Linked DNA regions of Homo sapiens. The protein of the gene in region 1 purifies or fractionates together with the protein of each later gene. This does not show direct contact. Each region holds a gene or a part of one and is shown in the gene's direction. Other genes may lie near its edges. The genes, in order: CCNG2 and PPP2R5E.

The links.
Region 2: the proteins of CCNG2 (region 1) and PPP2R5E purify together in Homo sapiens (affinity purification with mass spectrometry, with the first as the bait; one large-scale study listed by BioGRID). This does not show direct contact.

The regions. Positions count from the first base shown.
Region 1 is NC_000004.12:77,160,050-77,163,871, forward strand, and holds part of CCNG2 (cyclin-G2), read left to right. Parts: intron 1-671; coding exon 672-922; intron 923-1,430; coding exon 1,431-1,509; intron 1,510-1,599; coding exon 1,600-1,698; intron 1,699-3,822. UniProt on the Homo sapiens protein: May play a role in growth regulation and in negative regulation of cell cycle progression.
Region 2 is NC_000014.9:63,396,647-63,400,468, reverse strand, and holds part of PPP2R5E (serine/threonine-protein phosphatase 2A 56 kDa regulatory subunit epsilon isoform), read left to right. Parts: intron 1-3,752; coding exon 3,753-3,822. UniProt on the Homo sapiens protein: The B regulatory subunit might modulate substrate selectivity and catalytic activity, and might also direct the localization of the catalytic enzyme to a particular subcellular compartment.

The DNA.
Region 1 (3,822 bases):
TGTCCATGGCAGCTTTTACATATGTCCCACTCTGCACAACTCGTGATATTTCTCTTGGGCAAAATTACATTGAAATATGGAATGACTCTTAAAGATTTTTATGTAAAAAGATAAGTATAAAATATTTTAATATCCCAGTACATTTTTTTTTGGTGTTAAAAAGCTTAATTTATTTTGGGAGAGATTATATTATGAATTTCATAAGTCTGAAATACAAATTATACTTTAGTGCTAGGAATCTAGCTTTTGAACCTGCATGGAAATTTTTGTACCTGCATTTGAATTTACATAATTTAAAGGTTCAAAAAACTTTTTTTTTTTTTTTTAAATAGAGATGGAGGCTTGCTGTGTTGGCCAGAATAGTCTTGCTATGTTGGCCAGAGTGTTCTCAAACTCCTGGCCTCAAGCAGTCCTCCCACCTCAGCCTCCCAAAGTCCTGGGATTACAGGCATGAGCCACTGTTCCCTGCTGCCTTTTTTTTTGGGGGGGGGGGGAGGTCGAGAACGTCTAAAATGTGAAAATGTGTATAATTGTGGGTAAAGAGCCAGTACATATAAGAGAAACAACTTGATTGTGTTCTGTCTTAAGAATAGGAGCATCATTACAATATTCTAAGTATCTGCTAAGTCAAAGTGACAGTTGTTAAAAGAAGCCTCTTGTTTTTTTCTCAGGTGAAACCTAAACATTTGTCTTGCATTGGAGTCTGTTCTTTTTTGCTGGCTGCTAGAATAGTTGAAGAAGACTGCAATATTCCATCCACTCATGATGTGATCCGGATTAGTCAGTGTAAATGTACTGCTTCTGACATAAAACGGATGGAAAAAATAATTTCAGAAAAATTGCACTATGAATTGGAAGCTACTACTGCCTTAAACTTTTTGCACTTATACCATACTATTATACTTTGTCATACTTCAGAAAGGTCAGTGGGATTAAAGATACATTTTGTACTTTGAACATTGCTATAGCTAACAGTAAATAATTGGAATGGCAATGAAATTTATATTTTTACCTTCTTCAAACTTTCAACTTTGACTTTATTGGTAAATCTTTTTTTTTTTTTTTTTTTGGAGAAGGAATTTCGCTCTTGTTGCCCAGGCTGGAGTGCAATGGCGTGATCTCGGCTCACTGCAACCTCCACTTCCCGGGTTCAAGCGATTCTCCTGCGTCAGCCTCCCAAGTAGCTGGGATTACAGGCGTGCGCCACCACACCTGGCTAATTTTATATTTTTAGTAGAGACAGGGTTTTTCCATGTTGGTCAGGCTGGTCTCGAACTCCTGACCTTAGGTGATCCACCTGCTTCTGCCTTCCAAAGTGGTGGGATTACAGGCGTGAGACACCGCGTCTGGCCCTGGCAAATATTTAAAATCATTTAAAATCATTTAAATCTTTGGAAGTTTAATAAATCTTTGTTCTTTGCATTGTATAGGAAAGAAATACTGAGCCTTGATAAACTAGAAGCTCAGCTGAAAGCTTGCAACTGCCGACTCATCTTTTCAAAAGCAAAAGTAAGTCGATTCCTTGCTTATGTATATATCTCACAGTTTGTATTTTGAATTTTTAAAAAATATTTTTCTTTTTTTTCTTTTTTCTTACAGCCATCTGTATTAGCCTTGTGCCTTCTCAATTTGGAAGTGGAAACTTTGAAATCTGTTGAATTACTGGAAATTCTCTTGCTAGTTAAAAAACATTCCAAGGTAATTACAGTCATTATTCTTTAAGGCAAATTTTTTTCCTGATGTTTATTTTTTTCTGTGGTGACTTAAACATTAAGTAATACTTTATGGGACTCTTAACTTTTACACTTGTTTTTTTTCTTATATCTCTAGTGTTAAAGTTCTCAAAATGCAGCTTTGACCCAGACAGTATTAATCCGGAAGGGAACCTGGTCACTTAGCTCAGCTTCTTTCTGCATATAGGTGCCCCTTCTGTAGTAATCATGCCATATGATAGTACAGCTGTTACATTGCCACATATGCATTGTTCTGAAATGCATACTAGGTAGTAGACTCAGAACAAACACTAATGGGATAGGATGGGATCCCATCACACCTGTAGGACTGAACTGTCATCCCATTAGCAGCAGCATCAATTAACACCAGCAATGTTGATGTTTTAAACCCGAATGTCTTTTCAAATCCTTTAGGCCAGCTAAGTAAAAGTAAGTCTTACCATCACAAAGAGATATAAAACAAAAGCACAATACTTTTTCTTAAACTCTCAGTCTAGTTGGGGAAATGAGGAACTTAACATGAAGTGGTGTGTTCTGTCATTTGTTATTGTGTCTTGGTGCCAGGTAATAGTGAATATAGAGAGTACTTTGGGATTTTTTTTTTTTTTTTTTTTTTTTTTGAGACAGTCTTGCTCTGTTGCCCAAGCTAGAGTGCAGTGGCATGATCTTGGCTCACCGCAACCTCAGCCTCTCGGGTTCAAGTGATTCTCCTGCGTCAACCTCCCGAGTAGCTGGGGCTACAGGTGCTCACCACCATGCCAGGCTAATTTTTATATTTTTGGTAGAGATGGGGTTTCGCCATGTTGGCCAGGCCGGTCTTGAACTCCTGACTTCAAGTGATCCCACCTGCCTTGGCCTCCCAAAGTGCTGGGATTACAGGCGTGAGCCACTGTGCCCGGCTTACTTTGGGTTTTTTTTAAGCAAAGAAATAGGGCAGACTAGGAGAAACACTATGACTGGGAGCCTGTTTGGAGCAAAAGAATCTTTGACAGTGAAAGTTTCAGCGAAGGCTTAACGGCCAAGAAATTGGTGGACTAGACAGATATAAAAGTCATTTTAGGGTAGACTTACAGGTACAATGTCTAGGTGGTAGTCACAAGCAGGAGTAAGGCTGTCCAACTCAAACAGTGGTTTTGGAAGCCAAGCATGGAAATGAGGCAAGGAGTCTTGAATGACCAAGATTTGTACCTAATGGTGGATATAATATTAGCATAATTGGCAGGAAATTTGGGAGAAGTTAATTTGTGATGAGAGCAATATGATTTTAGATGCTTGTGTACACAGGTGGGTGTCTAGTAGGTGTTTGGCGTTTTGGAATAAGAAGATAAACTATAGTTAGAGATTGAGGTTTGGAATTTCTCATGAAGAAGCAGTAGTTGAAACGGTAAGAAGCTGTGGAATCCTTTTTGTAGGGGTCAGTTGAAGCTCTGGGGTTTTCAGCGTTGGCCTTTCCCCCCAACATTAGGAGCCAAGTGAAGAAAGGTACATCCCCACAAGTAGAAGCACTGTCAGACTGGAAGGAGGTTTTTAAGGAGGTGGTCAGGAGTATTGAATTTTTATAAGAGATCCAATATAATGAAAATTGAAGGTCATTGGGTGTGTCAGAGGTAATGTCAGTAGAGCAGTGAGAAGGAAGTGGTAGAAACCAGATTACAAGTGGGTTAGGATGTAGCTACATTAGGTGAAAATGGGAAGCCAAGAAAATAGATCTTCTGTTTTCTGGTGAAAATATGTGCATGTGAAGCATTTTGTTTGTAACAGATAACTTTTTGCTTTAGTTATGATTTTATTAGTTTTTATCTGAACTTTTTATTGATAGTGATAGCTGGAACCATCTTCAGTGAAAATTGATTCGTTGAAATAAACTGAAGGCATTCCGAAGGAGGAGGGAAAAAAATACGTAAAAAGAAAAACAAAAAAGAAATAAACTGGAGCACTGCCCAGTGGTGGCGGAACTATGTCCTTTTTGGGAAATTCCTGTTCTCTCATATCACTAACTTCTTTAGTTTTGTATCTGGTGTTATAAGTGTGTATTACCAGCAATCCAAACAATGCCTTGTTGCAGGAACCCAAATTGGTTTCTGTAACA
Region 2 (3,822 bases), on another chromosome or scaffold:
TAGGAAAAGCATGTACTATTGAACCTGTGAGGAGCACTCATATCCCACTTCTAACTCCTCATTTCTTCATCGGTCAGCCTGGATGTCTCTTCCTTTAGAAGCCTTTGCTGATCACTCCACTTCTTCCAAATACAGTAGATGTGTCTGCTGTGTATTTATACAACATCCTGAACTACTTAACATGCTGTTTATTTACTTGTTTGTATTCCCCATTAGAATAGGCTCTGAGAAAGCAAAGACTGTATCTGTCTTGCTTATCATTGTATCCCTGACAGCTCGCCCACTGGCTGGCTTTTAATAAGCACACCATAAATATTTACTTGAAATACTCATTTTTAAAATGAACAGATGAATGAATGATAGATGGATGGTGGATGGCATTATGTAGCTAAAAATTGTGTCCTGTCTCTACCTATTTTTGAAGACCATCCTTTAGTTTGCGTTTCCTGCCATGTTTGAGGGGCCTTTTTTTGGTCCATAACTCTTGTCTTTTATTCAAATTAAAACACCGAACAAAAGCACATTCGATTATTGACCATGAGGTTTTTATTCTGCTGTCAGTGTCAACCTCATGTCTAAATCACCTGAGGTCAAACTTACATATATCTGGATAGCCTTTTTGATGACGATGGTAGTCTAATTTGTGTGTTATGTGCTCTTGAAATGTTTTGCTGTAAAGACACTAGAACTGAATTTTGCTTTATTGCAATGATGATGAATGTTAAAAAAAACAACTCAGTAACATTCAAACCAATTTCCAAGTTTGTTCTTCAGCCAGAGGAACTTGCACACTGACTTTTTGTAAAGGTAGCAGATTTATTGTGTTGTAATTCATACACCATAAAATTCACCATTTTAAAGTTTCCAATTTAGTGGTTTTTAGTATGTTTACAGAGTCATGCAACCATCACCACAGTATCATTGCAGGATGTTTTTATCATCCCTCAAAGAAATCCAGACCCACAGGAGGCTGAAGCAGGAGAATCGCTTGAACCCGGAAGGCGGAGGTTTCAGTAAGCCGAGATAGCGCCACTGCACTCCAGCCTAGTGACAGAGCAAGACTCTGTCTCAAAAAAAAAAAAAAAAAAAAAAAAAAAAAAAAGAAAGAAATCCAGACCTATTAGTAGCCACTCCCCATTCTACTTTCTGTCACTATGGATTTGCCTATTCTGCTTATTTCACATAAATGGAGTCATACATTGTATGGCCTTCTGTGTCTGGTTTCTTTTACTTACTTAGCATGATGTTTGAAAGATTCATTGATGTTGTAACATGTATCAGTTACTTTGTTCCTTTTTATGGCTGAATAATATTCCATGGCATCCCATTTTGTTTATCAGTTGACGGATATTTGGGTTGTTTCAGTTTTTAGCTATTATGAATATTGCTCCCATGAACATCTGTGTACAAGTTTTTGTGTGGACATGTGTTTTCGGTTCTGCTGGATATATACATGAAAGTGGAATCGCTTAGTCATATAGTAACTCTGTGGGAGATTTAAGGAACTGCCAAACTGTTTTCTGAAATAGCTGCACCATTTTACATTCTTACCAACAATGTATGAGGGTTCCAGTTTCTCCATATCCTCGCCAACACTTTTTATTATCCCTCTTTTTCATTATAGCCATCCAATGAGTATCTCTTTGTTGGTTGGGTTTTCTTTTCTTTTCTTTTTTTCTGAGATGGAGTCTTCCTCTGTTGCCTAGGCTGTAGTGCAGCAGCGCGATCTCGGCTCACTGCAAACTCCACCTCCCAGGTTCAAGCAATTCTTCTGCCTCAGCCTCCCGAATACCTGGGATTACAGGCATGTGCCAGCACGCCTGGCTAATTTTTGTATTTTTAGTGGAGACAGGATTTCACCATGTTGGCCAGGCTGATCTCAAACCCCTGACCTCGTGATCTACCCCCTCGGCCTCCAAAAGTGCTAGGATTACAGGCGTGAGCCAGGGTTTGCTTTTCTGTAATGATCAATAAAATAGAGCACTTTTCATGGTTTATTGACCATTCTTGTTGAAAATCAGTTGACCATAAATGTGAGGGCTTACTTTTGGGCTCTTAATTCTATTCCATTAATCTGTATGTCTGTCTTTATGCCAGTACCACACTGTCTTGGTATTTTGGACTAAGTTTTGAAATAGAGAAGTGTGAATCTTTCAAGTTTTGTTTCCCTCAAGAGTATTTTGGCTCTTCTGGTTCTCTTGCATTTCCATATGAATTTTAGGATCAACTTGTCAATGATACAAAAACAAAGCAGCTAGAACTTTTGATAGAGATTGAGTTGAATCTGTTGTGCTCACTGGCATTTGGCTGAAACTTTAGCTTGTTACCTCTTTTGGACTAGTTGCGTGGACCTCATTTTGAGCATGTAGATGTGATGTTATCAGGATTTGGTTATTAACTTTAGATTACAAATGTTTGGGAACTTAAACATGTTATTCACAGCCAGGCATGGTGGCTCACACCTCTAATCCCAGCACTTTGGGAGGCTGAGGTGGGTGGATCACCTGAGTTCTGGAGTTTGAGACTAGCCTGACCAATATGGTGAAACCCTGTCTCTGCTAAAAATACAAAAAATTAGCTGGGCACGGTGGTAGGTGCCTTTAGTCCCAGCTACTCAGGAGGCTGAGACAGGAGAATTGCTTGCTTGAACACAGGAGGCGGAGGTTGCAGTGAGCTGAGATCGTGCCACTGCACTCCAGCCTGGGCAACAGAGCAATACTCCATCTCAAAAAAAAAAAAAAAAAGTTATTCACATATAACATACAACAGAAATAATCAATGTTCACTTCGTTGACTATTTACAGAGTGAGCACACCTACATAACAAGAGTCTGGATCTAAAAAGGACCATTGCCAGTATCATTGAGACATTTTGATGTTTGTTTTGATTCAGGTTTTTTCATTTTCCTAGATGTTCTAGTAGAGCTGAAGGCTTATCCTTTTTTTTTTTTTTTTTTTTTTTTTTTTAAAGACCGAATCTTGCTCTATGGCCCAGGCTGGAGTGCAATGGCGCGATCGCAGCTCACTGTAACCTCTGCCTCCTGGGTTCAGGTGATTCTCCTGCCTCAGCCTTCTGAGTAGCTGGGATTACAGGTGCCCGCCACCACACCTGGCTAATTTTTGTATTTTTACTAGAGACGGGGTTTCACCATGTTGGCCAGGCTGGTCTTAAACTCCTGACCTCAGGTGATGCGCCTGCCTTGGCCTCCCCAGGTGCTGGGATTACAGGCATGAGTCACCACAGGCAGTCAGCTTATTTTAACTGCATATTTGGAATATCAGTAGGTAGCATAGTGCAGTGGTTGAGCTACGGACTTTTGGCCTCAACTGCTGGGGTTCAAATTCTAGCTTTACCACCTATTAGCTGTGAGACCGTGGGCACGTTACTTAACCCTATGTGCCCCAGTTTCCTCTTCTGTAAAAGGGGGACAAAACTATCTCATTGGGAGGATTAATATGTAGATTGCTTGGAAAATTGCCTGATGATCACAGTAAGTGCCATATGTGTATTAGCTATTATTCATATTATTACTTTTATTGTTGTTATTTTGTATTTGTATTTCTTTAGTGGAATATAAGCTCCTTGTCTGACTTGTTTATCATGATATGCCCAAAGACTAGCACTGTGCTTGGCACATAATAGATATTCAACACATTTTTTGAGGAAGGAAGAAGGGGATTTTAAATAATAGAATTCCTAAATCCTTTTCTGAAACCGCCTTTGACAGCTATAATGTCTTTCATTTACAACAGCTTCTGGAGCTATTTGACAGCGAAGACCCTCGGGAACGGGACTACTTAAAAACAGTCTTACACAGAATTT